Linked DNA regions of Homo sapiens: all the other regions are linked to region 4. Evidence: fine-mapped expression QTL. A gene starts in region 4. Each other region holds a variant in brackets. All regions are shown on one strand. Distances are between the middles of the regions. Region 1 overlaps MBOAT1 (membrane bound glycerophospholipid O-acyltransferase 1). Region 2 has its middle 120 kb from the start of MBOAT1. Region 3 has its middle 23 kb from the start of MBOAT1. Region 4 holds the start of MBOAT1 (membrane bound glycerophospholipid O-acyltransferase 1).

Region 1 (5,000 bases), 87 kb before region 4:
CCTTAGCCTCCCAAAGTGCTAGGATTATAGTCATGAGCCATTACACCCAGCCAAAAAAATTATAATTTTTTTTAAAAAAAAAGTAATTTGGTACCTGCAAACTTTAACTGGAACTTAAAACTTGAAGGATGAACTGAGAGAGAAGAGGAACTCAAGGAATTAAGTGCTATTCCCTCATTCGTGAGATGTGGGCTGAACCCTCAGAAACCAAGTTTAATCTTCTATTTTATTTAATAAGCCAAGTCACTGCTCTCTGACATCAAGCGCAGGTCGCTTGCAGCTAAGACACACAACTCCCATCCCTGAAAGGGTTCCAGTGTGACATAGACAGGGCTTCCGTACTTTATCAACACCCTTTCCCAGTCTCTAAGTATACAGATGGGTTTATAGCTCATGTTAGTAAAGCTTTATGCAACTGCAGTCTAAAATTGTTTGAAAGGAAAGAGATAAAAGCTTAATATAGACCAAGTTATCCCACAGGAAAAAACAAAAGGTGTGATAAAACCAAGTGAAGTTGAACTTTCTACCTAAAAAAAAAAAAAAATCACTTGAAGTCAGCTTCTTTCTAAGACATAAAAACCTAACAACGGTTCCTTAAAGAAGTGTAACCTAAATTAGCATGTGTGTTGGTCAAATTAATTCAAGGTGCATCCTATATTACATAAAACCCAGAAAAACTACAAAAAAGCCAGATCAAGGCTGGGCGTGGTGGCTCACACCTGTAATCCCAGCACTTTGGGAGGCCAGGGCGGGCAGATCACGACGTCAGGAGATCGAGACCATCCTGGCTAACACTGTGAAACCCCATCTCTACTAAAAATACAAAAAAAATTAGCTGGGTGTGGTGGCGGACGCCTGTAGTCCCAGCTACTGGGAGGCTGAGGCAGGAGAATGGCATTAACCCAGGAGGTGGAGCTTGCAGTGAGCCAAGATCGTGCCACTGCGCTCCAGCCTGGGCGACAGAGTGAGACTCCATGTCAAAAAAAAAGAAAGCCAGATCAATCATTCCAGAATTTCCCCTCAACTTTCCACTGCTTTACATGGCCAACTTTGATTGGTAGAAGGAGAAGCTTCCAAGTTTTGACATCTGCTAATAACATTGGGTTTAAACAACAGCCAGGGTGTTTTTCTCCTTATCATGGAGAACTGAGTTTATGGAGGGTGGGAGAGAGGAGTGCTATGTTGGTACGTTAAAACTGACCCTGACTCAACTGCCTCCCATTACGTGTTGAGCTTCTTTGATGAAGTGATCCAAAACGTCGTTCTGGCTAAGCCATTCAAGCAGTAGCATTTTTCCCTCATTCAGTTACAGCTACTCCATCAAACTTACCTAATGTCCATGCAAAGTAATACTTGGGCTTTGAGGCTTGCATGACAACATATAAGTAGCAGAGTCGAGCCGGAAAGCTTGCTTTATGGACAAACCAGTCATCCACAAGGCAGGTGACAGGAAAGGTCTTCGTTAGCGTCAAAAACAAAAGGAGAGACACCAAGGTGATGCCCAACTTGTGTATCACAGCTCCCTGAAAATGGGGAAAAATCAGTGTCACCGTGCAGAAGGCTCAGGTATGAAGAAAACAGCTTTGGAATGGACCTGTTAAGGACAACGTTGCTCCAACAGCTGCTTGGCATTATTCCCCAGAAGGAGTGACAACAGGCATTCTTCCTCATGAGACAAATCTGACAATGGAGATTAGGTGCTATATTTAGATACAGAACATGCCTCTGACACTTGGGGGTTGAATGTATCTAGACTGGAAGAAAACTTCCATCAGCATATTCAACGAACAAAATGTAAGTACTTATATTATCCAAAACACAAGAGAAATGGATAACAGGGTGGCAAGTTTCCATCAAGAAAAACAAAAAACATTTGCACATTTGCCTTCTATTCCTGTGGCCAGCAGAGCCCAGGAAATGGGCTTGAATCACCAGTAGGGAAGACAGAGGCTCAGGTACGAAGGATTCTGAGCAAGTGATTGAATACCTGGGCCAGCCAGGACATGGGCAGGTAATGGGGAGCTCTAGAAAGCCTTCCAGGGTGGTTTAGATATAGTCTACTCTGGGGTTAATTATGTGCTGACTTTTTAAATTCCTCTGGACAGAGTGATTTTGCCTAGCTCCCCTGACATTTCAAGGAATGTCCTTCAACATTCAACAGAACTCTAGTCTCCGACTTCATAAAAAAAAGACTTTTATTGGTAGTATGGGCATAGCAATAGCACCTTCCTCAGAGGGCACCTTGGGGTTTAAGTGAATGAGTATTTGCAAGGTCCTGTGAACAGTGCCTGGATCCCAGTTAAGTGCTTAGCACGCTCAGCCACAATTACAGCTATACCACTGATAGGCACCAGCTCATGGATCCCAGCCCTTTCCCAGCTGTATGTCTTGAACTAAAACGCAACCTCACCACTTCACCTTATCTGTGCACAAAAATGCAAGTGTTTCCTTGGAGAGTGGCAGAAAGACTCTCTGATGACATTACCTTATAAATAAAAGCACGAGAAGCGTGAAAACACTAAGGTGACAGATACTGCCTAGAAATGCTGTCACTTTGGTGTCTCTCACAACCATGGTGACTTCACTCCTAGATCGTTTTGGTAAAGCAGATGAACTTGAGATACTTGACCAACCATAAAGTGCTGAGAACTGAACTATGTCAAAAATATCTAAAAACTCATACCTAATTAATAAATCCCTTAAGTTTTCAAATACTTAACTCATAGTCTTTGCCAAGGCGTTAGCAGTTTCAAAATGTTTAACTTGAATTATCCTCATTTCCTTCCTTTTCCAATTTTCACCACTCCTTTCGTTAATTACAAATGTCCCTTAAATATAGGATATTTGACCTGAATAAATTGAGCATATTTGTAAAGTTCAATGAGTTATTCTAATATTGACTAATTAGAGATTGATAAAATTCAGTTAAGTTTTAAAATATTATTTCAAAAAGTCATCTTAAATTCTCTCAAGGTCAACATAAGCAAGCTTTAGGCATGCCAAGGTAAAACTGGTTTCCCTTGCAATAAGTGAGCTCTACAAGAAAAACACAGTAATTCCAGTTCCGTGGTCCCCCTCCCCCTCACCTTCTATGCC[A/G]TATCATCTTTTGGCTGTACTTGAATTTCAACTCATAAAGGCAAAACACCCATAGTATTCAAACGTGTTAACTCCACAGTGCTGGACACCTTGTATGCACTAAATATTGACTGATGAACTGACTGCTTTCATTTTCCTAGCCAATGAGCTTCTCAGTAAAATAAACACCCATTGCTGCAAAATAGAACTGCTGCAAATAAGTAACTATACTGGTATTTTAAATAAATGAGAAAAGTTATTGGCCAAGCTTTCTGGTAAACTGTTTGGCTTCTTAATTAGAACCATTATTAGAGAGAGTCAACCCTGGCAGCAAAACCCTATTCTCTAGACACTAAAAACTTACTGTGGGAGAAGGTTCTGGCAAGCTGTGGAAACCTTTTCGCTTCCAGTTCACCTCCAGCAACTTCATGTGTATATGCTTCCCCTCAATGAAGGCTATGTAGTCCTTGAAATTGTTACAAGGACCAGCTATGACACTCATGAAATTGAGAAGGTAACTTAAGTATTCCAAAAAAGAGGGTTTCACTCTGTGAAAATAAAGTAAATAAATTGAAAAGTCTTCAGTCTTTGCTTTTTCTTCAGAATCTGTAAATAAGCAAACACAAATGTTATCTCTGTAGATTCGATACATGACATGACCTTTCCTTGTTTTGTTTCTACAAAGTCAGCCGAGGAGAAATCTTGTGGAAAGGAAAGGTTAAAGAAGCAGGGGGCTCACAGCAGGCACAGAGCTCCATGCTGCCCTCTGCTGGCCAGACACAGCCGTAGGCACTCAGAGCTGGGCGAGGGCAAGTGCAACTCAGGCTGGGAAATGTCCTTATCTCATCAACCTTTCCTGTCTACAGGACAAAACGAAGGTAATAAACATAAAGCAGGGCGGAACCTGACCTAATGTTAGCGGATCGAGATGCTTCCAAATGGGAAAACTCCCTCCCGATTGCCAACATAAATACAAAACAAATGATGGGTGGAACCAGTTTCCACTGAAAGAGGCCACGCAGAAGAACCGCAGTAGCAGCCTGTTGTCTGCTTTGGCAACCAGGCCTGAGTTCCTGAGTAACAGACCAAGGTAGTGGAGGGAAAAAAGTCTGTAGAGAACTGTTCTGTGTGGTGCTTTAATGGCATTTTGGAAGGCCTGTTCTAGCAAGATAGAATAAAGACTCCCTGAAATGTCATTGCTAACCAGTCGCCGGAATTATCCCCTATAGCAGGGATTCCCAACCCCTGGGGCTCAGACTGGTATTGGTCTGTGGCCTGTTAGGAACTGGGCCAACAGCAGCAGGTGAGCGGCATGTGAGCAAACAAAGCTTCATCTGTATTTACAGCCTCTCCCCATCACTTACATTACCGCCTGAGCGCCACCTAATGTCAGATCAGCAGCGGCATTAGATTCTCATAGGAGTGCAAACCCTATGGTGAACCGTGCATGCCAGGGATGTAGGCTGCACACTCCTTATAAGAATCTAATGACTGATGATCTGTCACTGTTCCCCAACACCCCCAGATGGGACCACCTAGTTGCAGGAAAACAAGCTCAGGGCTCCCGCAGATTCTACATTATGGTGAGTTGTATAATTATTTCATTATATATTACGATGTAATAACAATACAAAGTGCACAATAAATGTAAGGCCCTCCTGAAACCATCCCCCCACCACCACCCGCAACCCTGGGTCTGTGGAAAAACTGTCTTCCACTAAACTGGTCCCAAACAGGTTGGAGACTGCTGCCCTACAGCATTTACACCTCCATTGTGCTTAGGAAAGGGCTGATTCATTAGAATCTTTCAATAGTGCTCCACTGCTTCCAAGTCCCAATTCCTTAATGCAGGAATGAAGAAGTCAATCTCCTCTACCACCTGGAACCTTCCTCAGTTATGCCAGTTGTCCCTGCTTCTGTCTAGC
Region 2 (5,199 bases), 120 kb before region 4:
TACATGACCAAAACAAACAAATTTTAAATACAAGTTATAAGTTATTCAAGTAGCACAAGAAGAATTTTTGGCATAATTATTTATTTATTTATTTATTTATTTTGAGATGGAGTCTCGCTGTGTCATGCAGGCTGGAGTGCAGTGGCATGATCTTGGCTCACTGCAACCTCCATCTCCCAGGTTCAAGTGATTCTCCTGCCTCAGGCTCCCGAGTAGCTGGGATTACAGGTATGTGCCACCATACCTGGCTAATTTTTGTATTTTTTGTAGAGATGGGGTTTCACCATGTTGGCCAGGCTGGTCTCCTGGCCCCAAGTGATCCGTCTGCCTCGGTCTCCCAAAGTGCTGTTACTAAAGGTGTGAGGCACCGTGCCCTGCCAATATAATTCTTAAAATGAACTTGAGCAGTTTGGCGACGCCTGACCTAAGTCCTAGGGGAAAGCCCAGGGTTTCGATTCTGTTGCCATCACTTACTGTGGGTGTGTCCATGGGAAACTCACTCAAGTTATTCAGGCCTCAGGTTCCTAATTTTAAAACGGATAGTAACATCTGGTTCCACTAACTTTAGATTGTTGGTTTGGGAAACAAAGGAAATAATGTAAGAGAAAGCACTTTATAAACTGAATTACAAACAAAACGTGGGATGAAATAGAGTGTCACCTCTTTTCATGAGGTTCTGGAACTAGTCTTGCAGTGTTTAGAAAACTAATCACAAGAAAGAGAAAAAATGAAGGGAGGAAGGAAAGAATAGACTTGCCTAAAAGATAGGTTGTTTCGAAATATTTTCCCCCACGATGGTAAGACATAAACTCAATCTGTGAATTTTATCCAAGTCCCAGGTTTTGTTGAGAAACAAGTGAGCTGGGAAGGAAGAACTAGAAAGATTAATTCACTGCATTGCTTGGCCTAGTAACCATGGGCCAGAAGAGAACCTATGCCTACTTCACACTTCCGTGTGTGAACAAGGCATGTTATTTATTGTGTCTGCTAGGCACAGAGTGAAGACTTCAATATTTGCCAGAATGTTTGTGCTTCTTTCTAAATTCAGAAACTTGCCTAAATGGCTGGACGCAGTGGCTCAGGCCTGTAATCCCTGCACTTTGGGAGACTGAGGTGGGCAGATCACCTGAGGTCAGGAGTTCGAGACTACCCTGGCCAACATGGCAAAACCCTGTCTCTACAAAAAATACAAAAATTAGCTGGTTGTGGTGGCGCACGCCTGTAATCCCAGCTACTTCGGAGGCTGAGGCAGGAGAACTGCTTGAACCCAGGAGGTGGAGGTTGCAGTGAGCTGAGATCACATCACTGGCACTCTAGCCTGGGCGACAGAGTGAGACTCCATCCTTCCGCTCCCCTACCTCCCCGCCCGCAAAAAAAAACTTGCCTAACTGCTCCAACCATAAAACTGAAATGTCAGTGGTGGAAGATAACATATAAAACACCTGTATTTTCCTTTAAGTCATTCAGAACTTATTACCTAGGAAACAAAATACTACAAAGTTATAGGCCAAAAAATAAGTGTTGAGAAGCTCACTACTGGAAATAAAGAGGTTCAGAAGAGTGTGAAGAAAAACATCAAATTATGGAATGTTAGAAGCAGAAGCAACCATGCTGGTCAGCTTATTTAATACCCACCTTTTACACACAAGAAACTTGATCTCCAAAGAACTTATATGACCCCATATCACAATGACCTATTTCCACTATATCATCATTTGAGAATTCTGTCAGCTTCATAACTCATATTATGGTTTAACTCATTTAATCCCCACAATTCTGAAGAGTAATTATAATTGCTAGCATTCCTCCTAAGAAGAAAAGTATTCAGAGCCGGTTGCTCACTTTTTTTATGGTCACACAGCATGTAGAGGCAGAAATTTGCCTTAAATGAAGCTATTTTGCCTTCAGCATCTCTGCTCCTTGGAGTTTACACACCCTCCTGTGTGCTTTTTTCCTACAGTGGAGAGAGGACAGGGCAGGGAAACAATTCATTATTTGACCCTATAGCAATAGGGTCATTAAAATCTGACCTTTACTCCGAAAGACTATCATTTACTGTTCAAAAGAAACACCAGACAGTGACTCACGCCTGTAATCCCAGCACTTTGGGAGGCTGAGGCGGGCTGATCACGAGGTCAGGAGTTCGAGACCAGCC[C/T]GGCCAATACAGTGAAACCCTGTCTCTACTAAAAAATACAAAAATTAGCCTGGCATGGTGGCACACACCTGTAGTCCCAGCTACTCAGGAGGCTGAGGCAGGAGAATCGCTTGAACCCAGGAAGCGGAGGTTGCAGTGAGCCGAGATCATACCACTGCACTCCAGCCTGGGCGACAGAGCAAGACTCCATCTCCAAAACAAACAAACAAAAAAAAACCAGAGGTTAAAGTGGCAATTGCTAAGCATTCTAAGCATTCAGAGTGTGAATGAACAAATGAATGAATGAACAAATGAATGCTTGACTTCCTAATTCAACATGGAAATCATCAGAAATTACCTCACATGGCCACAAGATGTCACTACTTCACACCACTTCAGAAAAATCACATTCTAAGTCAAGAATTTTAGATCCTTTGGACAGAGGGAATTTCTTGTTCCTCATTGAGAAAGGCTTAGTTATTTTGCATGTGTTTTGGGACTGCTTCCTTGTTTTCTCTTAAGTCTATCTACCTCAAGAGATACTGCAAAACGTAGACTTTAAATGAAGGCTGAGGCTGAATGCTCTTAAGCTGGGAAGCATTAATCAAGAAGTCAATCACTCACCTGTTTCCAGGGACTTCTCAGCAAAAACAAAGGCAGGATTGACACTTTGACTACTCTGTTACCCTGCTCTGTTTGCAAAGCTTTCTCTCAGCACTTTCTTGTAATTCTACCTCTCTCATTGCTTCAGATTCACAAAAAAACAGTGATTCAGCAACATCCAAAAGGCAGCACACTGGGGTTTTAAATAGTGCTTTCTTCTTGAAATGTTTGCCTCACACCTTCCTTACCGGGAATAAGGTTCAAATTACTGCAGTGAGTTTACATAAGCTATTAATGCATTTAATTATTCAGTTCAGGGCTGTCCTGGGCTTATTGGTATTTTTTTTTAAGTATCATGAGACTCCAGTTTGCAAATCATCATTTCAAGTTCTTAAAAGTTTTTATACACCAAAATAATGTTAACCAAGCTTGATATTTCAACTTCAGCTATATTTAACATTGATAAAATAAACTTCAAATTTATTTTGATGGAAATATTTTATTCATGAGATCAACTGATGCTTGTAGATTGATTTTTAACAGTCCTAGAAAGTTTTAGAGTTTGATGTATTTTATTGGCATTCTCTATTAGATTCCCCTTCCTAACATTTCTTATTGAAATTGTTGATAAATAATCTTCATCAATTAGCCATTCAAGTTTGATGGGGCTGAGAAGGAAGGAAGCTCATTCATAAAAAGAAGCTGCTTGGTGGGTTTGGGGATCATTCAACTTTATAGGCCAAAAAAGCTGTTTTGCCTTAAAGGTCCATATTTCACACCACTTCAGAAAAATCCCATTCCAAGTCAAGAATTTTAGATCCTTTGGACAGAGGGAATTTCTTGTTCATCATTGAGAAAGGCTTAGTTATTTTGCATACGTTTTGGGACCACTTCCTTGTTTTCTCTTAAATCTACCTCAAGAGATACCGCAAAAAATGTAGACTTTAAATGAAGCCTGAGGCTGAATGCTCTAAAGCTGGGAAGAATTAATCAAGAATTTCTGGTGATTTCCATGTTGAATTAGGAAGTCGAGCATTCATTTATTTGTTCATTCATTCATTCACACTCTGAATGCTTAGAATGCTCAGCAATCGCCACCTTAACTTCTTAGGAAGAACAAATACATCCCATTTACTGAGAGGCTAAACAAACAGTCACTCGCCAGGCAAAGGGTTAAACGGTTCAGAGAAGGAGGCCTCAATCTCCACATTGTGATGGACTATACAATATGTAAAAGTCATTTCTTACTAGCAATAGTTTAAAGAGTTAAGGTTTGCAAGTGATTTTCCACTTAAAATTAAATAAATTACCTAACCGCATTCAAGTCAACCCCCATTACAACTTCACTGGATTTCATTCCTTGCTATGCTCATTAGAGCAGGAGAGAAAGAGACGGGAGATTTCATGGCATGTGGACATTCTCATCCTGTAAAGTTAAATGGAAAATTAAAATTCCAAACTCTATAGGAAGCATTAGACTTTTCCACAGATAAATGCCGATACCAAAGAACAACCAGAAATATAAAACAACAAAACAAAACAAACCTTCAACACAAAAACTAGAAATAAAATGCCAACAGGGGCTGGGATTATAGATGCCTTATTCCTTTTCTGTATTTTCAAATTTTTCTAAAAGGAATATATTTTTTAAATAAAGCAGCAGAAACCAAATGCCCAACCATTAGGGGACTGCTTTTCAAAATTATAGCACATTTATTTACACACTATTATGCAGCCATCAAAAACAACTTTTAGGAAGTTTCTGCAATAATATGGAGAAATGCTTATGATGTAAAACATTTGCAACAACTTGAAAAGCTCGATGCAGGGCACAGAATTTCTCTGAAAGGCCACATAAGAAGATAACACTGGCTGCATCCAGATGATGAAAACAGAGAGCTGAAGGTAGGCCTAGCAGGGAGAATTACTTTTTTTTGAGACAAGTCCCACTCTGTCACCCAGGCTGGAGTGCAATGGCACAAACTCGGCTCACTGCAACCTCCGACTCCCAGGTTCAAGTAATTCTCCTGCCTCAGCCTGCTGAGTAGCTGGGATTATAGGCGTGCAACACCATGCCCGGCTAATTTTTGTATTTTTTAGTAGAGACGTGGTTTCATCATGTTGGTCAGGCTGGTCTTGAACTCCTGACCTCATTATCCACCCACCTCAGCCTTCCAAAGCGCTGGGAGTACAGGAATGAGCCACCGCACCTGGCCTGAGAATTACATTTCTCTATACATTTTTTCTCACTGATCCAATTGGCAAAACATAAGAGTCTGCTAATACCAAGTACTGATGAGAATGTGGACAAAGAAAAACTGTTACACATTTTGGGGAAAGAAAAAACGCATACAACCAGCTGGAGAACAAGAGCACCCGAGCAAGCTGAGAGTGCATTTCTTTACACTAAGATCCTGCAATGCCACTGCATGATGTCCACCCTGTCACCAGAGAAATACAAA
Region 3 (5,199 bases), 23 kb after region 4:
ATCCCAGCACTTTGGGAGGCCAGGGTGGGTGGCTCACTTGAGGTCAGGTGTTCAAGACCAGCCTGGACAATATGGTGAAACCCCATCTCTACTAAAAATACAAAAATTAGCTGGGCATGGTGGCACGCGCCTGTAATCCCAGCTACTCGGGAGGCTGAGGCAGGAGAGTCGCTTGAACCTGGGAGCCAGAGGTTGCAGTGAGCCAAGATCATGCCAGTGTACTCCAGCCTGGGCGACAAAGTGAGTCTTGGTCAAAAAACAAACAAACAAACAAAAAAACCACGAATGTATTATTGAAAGGTGACAGCGTGCTGTCAGCCCTCGCACCCTCGCTCGCTCTCGGCACCTCCTTGGCCTTGGCGCCCACTCTGGCTGCGCTTGAGGAGCCCTTCAGCCCGCCGCTGCACTGTAGGAGCCCCTTTCTGGGCTGGCCAAGGCCAGAGCCGGCTCCCTCAGCTTGCAAGGACGTGTGGAGAGAGAGGTGCGGGTGGGAACCGAGGCTGCGCGCGGCACTTGAGGGCCAACGCGAGTTCCAGGTGGGCGTGGGCTCGGCGGGCCACGCACTCGGAGCGGCCTCAGCCCGCAAGCCCCGGGCAGTGAGGGGCTTAGCACCTAGACCAGCAGCTGCTGTGCTCGATTTCTCGCCGGGCCTTAGCTGCCTCCCCGCAGGGCAGGGCTCAGGACCTGCAGCCTGCCATGCCTGAGTCTCCCCGCCCCCGCCGTGGGCTCTTCTGCGGCCTGAGCCTCCCTGACGAGTGCCACCCCCTGCTCCACAGCGCCCGGTCCCGTCGACTGCCCAAGGGCTGAGGAGTGCGGGTGCACGGCGGGGAACTGGCAGGCAGCTCCACCTGCACCCCAGTGCTAAATCCACTGGGTGAGGCCAGCTGGGCTCCTGAGTCGAGTGGGGACTTGGAGAACCTTTGTGTCTAGCTAAGGGGTTGTGAGTGCACCAATCAGCACTCTGTGTAGCTCAAGGTTTGTGAACACACCAGTCAGCACCCTGCCTAGCTAGCTCAGGGTTTGTGGATGCACCAATCGGCACTCTGTATCCAGCTAATCTGGTGGGGACTTGGAGAATCTTTATGTCTAGCTAAGGGATTGTGAATACACCAATCGGCACTCTGTATCTAGCTCAAGGTTTGTAAACACACCAATCAGCACCCTGTGTCTAGCTCAGGGTTTGTGGATGCACCAATCGGCACTCTGTATCTAGCTAATCTGGTGGGGACTTGAGGAATCTTTATGTCTAGCTAAGGCATTGTGAATGCACCAATCGGCACTCTGTATCTAGCTCAAGGTTTGTAAATGCACCAATCAGCACTCTATGTCTAGCTCAGGGTTTGTAAATACACCAGCGGACACTCTATATCTAGCTAATCTAGTGGGGACGTGGAGAACTTTTGTGTCTAGCTCAGGGATTGTAAATGCATCAATCAGCACACTGTCAAAATGGACCAATCAGCTCTCTGTAAAACAGAACAATCGGCTCTCTGTAAAATGGACCCATCAGCAGGATGTGGGTGGGGCCAGATAAGCGAATAAATGCAGGCTGCAGAGCAACTTCAGTCCCCAGGCTAGCAAAGCCGCAAACCCATCGGGAGGAATGAGCAAATCCAGATGTGCTGGCTTAAAAGTTACAACAGCACAAACGTTTGCAGTTTCACTCCTGAGCTCAGTGAGACCAGGAACCCACCCGAAGGGAGAAACTGAATTTCCGAAGAAAATCTGGACTCACTGCCTTTAGAAACTGTAACAGCATGAGGGTCTGTCACTTCATTCTTGAAGTCAGTGAGACCAAGAACCCATCAATTCTGCCTCACACAATTTTGAGGTTCAGAAGTCCAAAATGGGTTTCGCTGGCTTAAAATTGAGGTGTCAGCTGGGCTACATTCTTTTCTGGAGGGTCTAGAGGAGGATCTATTTTCTTACCTTTTCAACTTCTACAAGCTGCCCGCAATCAAGGACTCTCAGCCCCCTTCCATCTTCAAAGCCAGCAGTGGTTGGCTGAGTCTTTCTCATATTCAACGCTTTGACATTGACTCTTCTGCCTCTCTTTCAGAGCCCCTCATGCTTATATTAGGCCCACCTGGATAATATCCCTACTCTCAGAACAGCTGATTAACAACCAACATCCCAGCTGCAACGTTAAATTCCCCCTGCCCAGGAACCTAACATATTAACGGGTTCTGGGAATGAGGACACGGACATCCTTGGGGTCTGTTATTCCACCTCCACGAACTTTAAAGCCTATGTTTTTTTGTTTGTCATACTCCCTTCTCACAAGGTCTCTTAATGTCTTTTCCAATTCTAAAAGTAAAAGTCATGGTCCCTGCTTTTGAGCTTCCAGAGAGGTTAGGGTGGTGAGGCCAACCTGAGTACAGTG[C/T]GGTGCTCAGTTCAGGTCTGTCAGTGAAAAGGCCTGTGATGGAAACCACAGCTGTACTCAGTTTACAAATTCCCTCGCTATGCAAACCTAATGCACATCTTTAGTTCTATCAAGCTGTGGTCATAAGATAACTTGCTGTGTGGATACAGATAGGGTGTAGAACTAACTGATTTGGGGGTTGCGTTGAAGAAAGAAAATGATGTCCCAGAGGCAGTGGGGGGTGGGGGGGGGGACGGGGCCGGTGTTGAGGAGAAAGTGGCAGTAAGGTCCTGTGAGAGAGGCCGAGGGGCACTTTGGAGGGCAAAAGAGGTGGCCACAGAGAAGTCAGAAGAACCCTTTCTTAGTACCAACGCCTCATGGTCAGGCCAGAGCCTGGAACCCTCTCGATGAAGTTTCTGGCAAGAAGAATGCCCTCAAAATTCAAAACGCTTCTGCTTCATTCTTTGTGAGCCAGCAAGTTTAGAAAAGGGGCCTTCCATAAAGACTAAAGCAATCGTGGAAATTCTTAATGATGTTATGAGAACCGCAAGGTGAGCACTTTGGGTGGTGGTGGTGAGAGTAAAGAAGAATTCCATGGTAGAAGAAACTAAAAAAAAAGGGGATGGGGGTCTAAAAAGAACAGGCCAGGCGTGGTGGCTCACACCTGTAATCCCAGCACTTTGGGTGGCCGAGGCAGGTGGATCACCTGAGGTGAGGAGTTGGAGACAAACCTCACCTTGTTGGCCAACATGGTGAAACCCTGTGTCTACTAAAAATACAAAAATTAGCTGGGCATGGTGGCACGCGCCTGTAATCCCACCTACTCAGGAGGCTGAGGTGAAAGAATCGCTTGAACCCAGGAGGCGGAGGTTGCAGTAAGCTGAGACCACACCATTGCACTCCAGCCTGGGCGACAGAGCAAGACTCCATCTCAAAAAAAAAAAAAAGGAAAAAAAAAAAAAAAAAAGAGAGAACAGTCAACTAGGAGAGCCTCTCCCCAAGGCCTTTCCAGCCCTGGGTGGACATTTTGCATCCCCAAGTCAGGAGTATTTTAAAAGCATCTTTATCACAGTGGTGCTCGGCTACTGCAGAATCAAAGCAGGTTTAGACACTGCCAGGATCAGAATCATATTGAGGTACTTGTTAAAAATGCAGACTTGGAAGGTGGTGGGGGTGGTCTTCATGTCAGACCTTCCCAATCAGAATGTCTAGAGTTGGGGACCAGGAATCTTCATCTTAAACAAGATCCTAAAAAAAAAAAAAAAGTTGAGAGCCAAGGTGGCACATTTTCTTCACTGCCAGAGAGATCATTAAAAATAAATTAACACCTCATCATCAGGTGAAGATGAAGGAACTAGGGCAAGAGGAAGAAAATGTGAGAAAAAAAAGATTTCTGTTTCCTGGTACTGTGACCACCGCAGACAGCAGCCTTGAGAACTGCGAATGTGGTTGCTAACAAGCATTCTAGATTCCCTAAACTGTCTGCTTTCAGACTCAAAATTTTGTGCCACTGAATATTTAGTAAGCAACAGCTTACTGAGAAGATAGGGACAGGGCTGTATTTTGCTCCCTTAAATAATATTAATTGAATTATCATATCGTCTATAGCTATGGTAAGAATATGTATTCATTGCAGTGGGAAGAACTATCAACAGCGTTTAAAGGGAGCATGTTCCCTCAAGCATGTATTTGCCTATTCACTGATGGCTGTTATAATTTTAGGCAAATTATGAGAAAAGTAACCACATGGATGCACACTGGGTACAGCTAAAATTTTTTTCAGATAAAAAAAGCAACAACAAATATCTAACTATGTCTGCCATTATTGATCTTATTCCAGATGGGCTTCTGGTTGTGGTTCAGGGTTCAAACTCTCTTGCTGAGTGAACCATCTTTATTTAAATAACCTTTAAACACTCAATACTGTTTTTTTGTCACCCTCTGCATGGAGGAATACATGCACCACACCTATCTAGACTATTTTTCCTCTAAAGGGTGTGGCCAAGGCTACACCTAAGTCTTTTGTGTGTTCAAGCTAAGTAAGAATTCTGTGGCTAGAGACCAATTCTTTTCATTTTTTGAATGTTTCATCAAAACTAGTTGAGCTACATGTGTGAATGGAGGGTATGGGCATTTAATGGAGACTGCTTTACAAGGCTGGAGATAAATTGCTATTTCTCTCTCCTCCTTTCACTTCTTTAAATTTCATGTTCTTAAAAGATCCCACCTATTCTTTAAACTTTCAACCCCTGAGTAATTTGCTCTCCAAGAGAAATTTTTCTTTAGGTGTGTCTTGCCATAAACCAAAGTTCACACCCTTGGCTATTCGTCCGAATCACCTAGGGAGCTTTTAAAAAATACTGATGCCAGGGCTGTAGTCCAGACCAGGAAAATAAAAATCTCCTGGGATGATCCCCAGCAAGATATAGGCAAGTTTATTCTAAAAGGTATATGGAAACAGAAAGAACCTAGAATAGCTAAGATAGTTTTTGAAAAAGAATAAAGTAGAAAGAGTCACTCCAACTACTGTTAAAGCTTATATAGTTATGGTAATCAAGACAGCATGGTGTGATGGAGGTTTAGATACATATGTGATCTGAGAGACCAAAATATCAACTAAGACAGACCCTAAGCTTAAGCAAACAAAAGTTACCTATGGGTTGAGGGTTCGGGGCCCAGCGGCCATGGCAAATTTCTAAATTCCTACAGCTACAACAAAAACCACACCCTTGCTAAACTAACAATAGGAGTTATGGGGTTGTATTACAACCCAGACCACGGCAACTCTAATTGGACAGAGGACTGGCCTTACAAACATTCTTTTCTGAGAAGTAACA
Region 4 (5,176 bases):
TCACATCATATAAAATTTCTCAACCTCAAAAGGTAGGTCTTATTGTCATCTCCCATTTTACATGAGGATGCTGAGTCTCCAAGAGGGTAGAGTACCAGCTGGCAGTCACAAAGGGAAGTTTGCTGGCAGAACTGGAATTGCACCCAGGTCAGTCTGACATCTAAGCCTTTAAAAAGCCTTAAAAATGTGAAAGGGAAAAAACACACAAAGCTTCCAAACTCGCAAGCCACAACGTAGCCTCAAACGACCTTATTTATGGTTTGGGGATTTTCCTTGGGCCTAAAATAAGCTACCTGGGGCACTGCCTTTTAAGTGCTTCTTCCACCAAGGGTCATCCACACTCACTCCTGCTGGAGGGTGGTCAGACTGACCTAAGAGCTAAGAGATCTCAGGTGCTCCTGGCCATGGCAAACATTTCTCCTTCGGTTTATCCCAGAAGTCTCTCCCTCCCTCCCTCCCTCCCTCCCTCCCAGTTTTAAACATTCCTAAGGCTCTTTTGTTCCTTTTTATGAATTAAAACCAGAATTACCTTTATAGGAAAGTAGGGGATGCAATTGAAAGACATTAAAAACATTATTCTAGCACCTCCCAGCCATAACTTGCCATGGTCCTTTAGCCATACAAAAAGCCTTCCTGGAGTCTTTCTAGCTGTGTAGAAGAGCTTAGAAGAGAAAATGCAATTAAAATACCTTCTGATAGGGAGTGGAGAGGTAAGTACAAAACAAACTCCCCTTAAGGAAATTCAGCTATGAGTTTTATTTAATTTCAGAACTAAAGAATTTGCTATTATGTCCGCCTCTGCCTGGGTCCCTGGGTCTATCTCATCCTCACCAGAAACTAAAGAGTAATTTACAAAAGCACAAATGCTTTGGCACCGAAACCCTTCCCAAGTTTCTGACTTTCTGTATTCTGCAACTGATGAGAACGCAATGGTCACATCAGGTGGAGTTCTCAGTCAGGTCCTCAGAGTGAGCCAGGTATGAGGGTGGCTCAGTAAACAGGACCCGAATAAGGCAAATGTCCAGGTCTCACTTTCTCATTGCTGAAGGGGTGTGCGCAAAGGGCAGCAGGTGTGCTCTTGTTAAAAGGAAAGGAAAAGGAGCACTGGTGAGAGGAAGGGGAAGAAAACCAGGCAAAAAAGCATGAAACAAAACAGGAGCGCAGTGGGTCCTCCCCCAGCATGCCCTGCCCAATTCTATTTAAATCAACATTTACTGATTGGGTCACTACTAAGTATCCCGCAGATCTAGCCTGCAGCACCTGAAGAGACAAGGAAATGAGTAAGACGGGCTTCATCTTCAGGAAGGTTTCTTGCCAGGAATCACTGTTGTTGCCATTTTTAATTTTAATGGTTGTAGATAATTCCTGGACAGTTCAAATAACTTCACTGGGGCCCCTCTCCTCCCCCTAACCTGTCCTACTCAGAAGCTCCAGCCCCAGGCATATGAGCCAACCGAACCCTGGGAAAACCAAAGTGTCCTTGTGTGTCCCGCATCACACACGGTACAAAATAACTGTCACCCCTGAACAAGCCTCGCCTCAGAAGTCTAAAACCCAGGTCCTGCATTCAAAATCTATAGACTACCGTCTACAGATTCATCGCGCTTGTTTTTTAAGTAGGGTCATCTAAATTAAAAACAATAACGACTTGAGGACACTGATGAAAGAAACACTGGTTTCATGTATCAGACTACTTCAGAACTTGATTACAGGAAACGAGGCAATCCCAAACTTAAAGAAAAAAAAGTTCAGTAGAACTTGCCGCGCAGGCTGTACCAATATTTTTTCACACTTACAAGGAGAAAAACACTAACACCAACTCAAGAAGGGAAAACACACACACACACACACACACACACACACACACAAAAACCAACTGTCTAGTGTGTGGCTGTAAAATACGCCATGGAGGCGGAGGGACGGTGGCTAACACTTTCGCCCGCCCCGTGCACGCGATCGCTGGGGAGCTGGGGTCGCTGCGCTCCCGGCCTGCAGTTACCTGGTCCAGCGGGATGCCCAGGAGCTCGCTGAGCGGGTGCAGGTAGGTGGAGCCCGTGGTGCGGTAGGAAAGGCTGGACGGCTGCGGCTCTGCTGCCATCCTGCATCTTCGGGAGGTGGCTGCCCCTGTCCCAGCCCGCAACACCCCCTGCTCGGCGTCCTCCCGCCCGGGTGCTCTTGGGTGGTTGCCCCGAGAGGCGCACGGCCGCCTGGTTCGCGGGGGAGCGAACGGGAGGCCGGGGAATGCGAACCGGCGCAAACTCTCGAGGCGCAAACTCTCGAGGCGCAAACTTGGCTTTGGCGCTGGCGCTGCAGCCACGGGCGCCGTAGGAGGGCCGGGCCCAAGGCGCCCCGCTTCCCGCTCCCTTCCTCTCCGCGCCCATTGGCCCGGCCGCTCGGGACGGCCCCGAGAGGAGGGAAGGAGGGAGGAAAAGTGGGGACTCCGAGCCCGGCCCCCAAGCGCCGCCCGGCCCGCCCAGCCTGGCCTGCACCGAGGCCGACCGGGAGAGGGAAAGCGACGCCAGCGGGCGCCGCCGCCTGGCCCTGCAGCTGGAGGCGGGACGCGCCTTTCCTCCTCCCGGGCTGACCGTCCTAGCCCCCCGCCAGACAAAACGACCTCACCCAGCGGGCGCCTTCCACTAGAGAGCACCACCCACCCCGCCCCACCCTGTTTTGGTTTCGCCGCCGCAGTCGAAGCGGCTGAGTGGCTGCGTTTCCCTTTCAAGCCGTAGAGGGTTCCTCTGCCGGTGGCTGGAAGCTGGAGCGCCGCAGCCACCAGACTCCCTACTTCCTTTACCCTCCTCTGCGCTAGGCATAGTTTCCTACACCCTGATCTGACATGTTCGGTGTCACACAAGCAAATACAGGGGACTGCTAGCTTCGGGTCACTTCCGTCTCTGTGGAGTGAGAGTTATTTCACCTCTGTAAGAAACGGTGTTTACTGTCATACTATGTGCATTCTGATAAGTCATTTGCATGCCACGGGTCCTCAAAAAGGGTGCCTTGCTCCTTAACTTGTCTGCCCCCGAACACCCACACATCAATGTTACTTGGAAAACTTTTCCAAGTTATTGCTAGGTTCTGAGAAACATAAAAATCTTGAAGATCCTTTTCAGGAATCGCTAGCTGATGAAAAAGGGTTTCAGGAAGGTAATATTCTGGGCTGCTGGGTAGAAAACCAAAGAAAGTGAGCTCACGTGGCCCCCAGCCTCCGCTGGGTAAACCGGCATTCGATCAGACAGGCAATGACTTTCGGGGCCGACTTTATCAATGTGGCCTCCAGCTTCAAATTAAACCGAAGGCCTGTCAGGCACTGGCAACAACTTACTCTCCAAGACTCAGGCCTCACTCTTGCCTTCTTCAGGAGTTTTATCACCATCAAACTGCACTGAGCATTAAATTGCCAGGCCAGAGTTTCTCAACCTATGTCCCCTGTGGAGGAGGAAAAAAAAAAGTCTGTACCACCACTCCCACAAGCTAACCGAATGGAGATGTCACCACCAGATGATAATCTCTACCACTCACAAGCAAACCCACACTACAGACAGACAGACACATGCACACACGCACACAGGCATATACTTGAGGATCACTAGGCTAGATAGGTTCATTTAATATCATAGAGTCCTGGAAAATGACCAGCATTGGAGCAACATTCATCTTATCTGGAGCTAGATGACAGCTGAAGTGAGGTATATGAGAGCAGACGGAGCTTTGTTTAAAAGGAAAAAAAAATCAACACTCAGATATGAGTTGCTGGAAAACAGAAGTAGGTCAGTTTGGGAAGTATTTCTGGAGCAAGTGCCTCAGACCCTTTATAATTTTCACAAAGCTATGCCTTTTAGACTTCAAAGAATAGTCCTCACATAGGCCATATATATATATGTGTGTGTGTGTGCGTGTGTATATATATTTATTATAAATATATTAATTTATATAATCATATATAAATATATTTATATATGTAAAGTTTTATATGTACATATATTAGCCTTACACAGGTTTATATATACATATATTACACAGTTTTTATATATATATATAACACAGGTTTGATATATACATATGTATATATGTATATGTAAAATATATACATGTATTAGCCTTACACAGGTTTTTTTCTCCCTAACAAAACACAGTTCATAACCTAGTCTAAATTTTTCTTTTAAAAATGGCCGGGTGCGGTGGCTTATGCCTGTAATCCCAGCATTTTGGGAGGCCGAGGCGGGCAGATCACCTGAGGTCAGGAGTTCGAGACCAGCCTGGCCAACATGGTGAAACCCCATCTCTACCAAAAAACAAAAATTAGCCAGGTGTGGTGGCAGGCACCTGTAATCCCAGCTACTTGGGAAGCTGAGGCAGGAGAATCGCCTGAACCCAGGGGACGGAGGTTTCAGTGAGCAGAGATCACGCCACTGGACTCCAGTCTGGCTAACAGAGCAAGACTCCATCAAAAAAAAAAATAAAAATAAAAATGTAGTAACTATGGTTAGAGCTTATAAACAAAATGTCACAGAACTTAATAGTTCTTTTCTCTTGATACTGTAGTACAATTAATGCAAAAAAAAATACTACTGTTGGATAACTCAGAACCAAGAGAGTAGCTCTGTTACACTACAGATGAATGAAACACACTTTGAAGAAGTTGTTTATATGAGTCCAAGATGTATAACAGCGGCACCATGGACACATTGCTCTTTTCCTTCATCAGTATCTCTATTTCCATCCTCTGTCAACTGTAGGTTCACAATAATTATTATCATATGTTAGAAATCACTTTACAAAAGCTGTTTCATTTACCAGTGCTAATAATCCTGTGGTAGTTATAAGAATCTATTTTATAGATGTGAAACCTGGGGTTAAGGGAGCTTAAGTGACTTGGTTGTATTTAGGGAGGTTAAGTAAAATGTGTCTGTCTGATTCCAGAGCCTGGGCTCTTTATTCATTATGCATTGCCTCCTCTAAAACATAGTATTTTTCTCTTTATCAAGAGGCCAGCCCACACACCTGATACAACCTTGTCATTTTTGTAGACGAGACATTACATTTACCATTCAAAATGAGGTGGTAGGGGTGATGCCACAGACACGCTGTCTCTCCTGTTTTCTATTTGCAGTAGAGTGAGGCTTGATATCAAGGTCAGTTTTATGAATCTTCCCTATGGAACCATGCTCAGAAT

Evidence for each region. PIP is the estimated chance that this variant, and not a neighbour inherited with it, causes the effect.
Region 1: its variant is fine-mapped to the expression of MBOAT1 in liver (GTEx, PIP 0.99).
Region 2: its variant is fine-mapped to the expression of MBOAT1 in whole blood (TOPMed, PIP above 0.99).
Region 3: its variant is fine-mapped to the expression of MBOAT1 in CD4 T cells (BLUEPRINT, PIP 0.95).

The regions. Positions count from the first base shown.
Region 1 is chr6:20,123,078-20,128,077 of GRCh38, forward strand. MBOAT1 (membrane bound glycerophospholipid O-acyltransferase 1) reads right to left here. Exons shown (of 13, transcript NM_001080480.3): 7 at 3,440-3,623; 8 at 1,331-1,523. Among named protein-coding and RNA genes, the nearest start is that of MBOAT1, 87 kb to the right of the region's middle. RefSeq lists a silencer at 3,807-3,934. The variant A/G (reference allele first, on the strand shown) is at 3,097.
Region 2 is chr6:20,089,712-20,094,910 of GRCh38, forward strand. No RefSeq gene overlaps it. Among named protein-coding and RNA genes, the nearest start is that of MBOAT1, 120 kb to the right of the region's middle. RefSeq lists an enhancer at 2,482-2,985. The variant C/T (reference allele first, on the strand shown) is at 2,156.
Region 3 is chr6:20,232,744-20,237,942 of GRCh38, forward strand. No RefSeq gene overlaps it. Among named protein-coding and RNA genes, the nearest start is that of MBOAT1, 23 kb to the left of the region's middle. The variant C/T (reference allele first, on the strand shown) is at 2,384.
Region 4 is chr6:20,210,137-20,215,312 of GRCh38, forward strand. MBOAT1 (membrane bound glycerophospholipid O-acyltransferase 1) reads right to left here and starts at 2,333. Exons shown (of 13, transcript NM_001080480.3): 1 at 2,000-2,333. The coding sequence starts at 2,098. RefSeq lists a silencer at 2,139-2,678 and an enhancer at 2,861-3,361.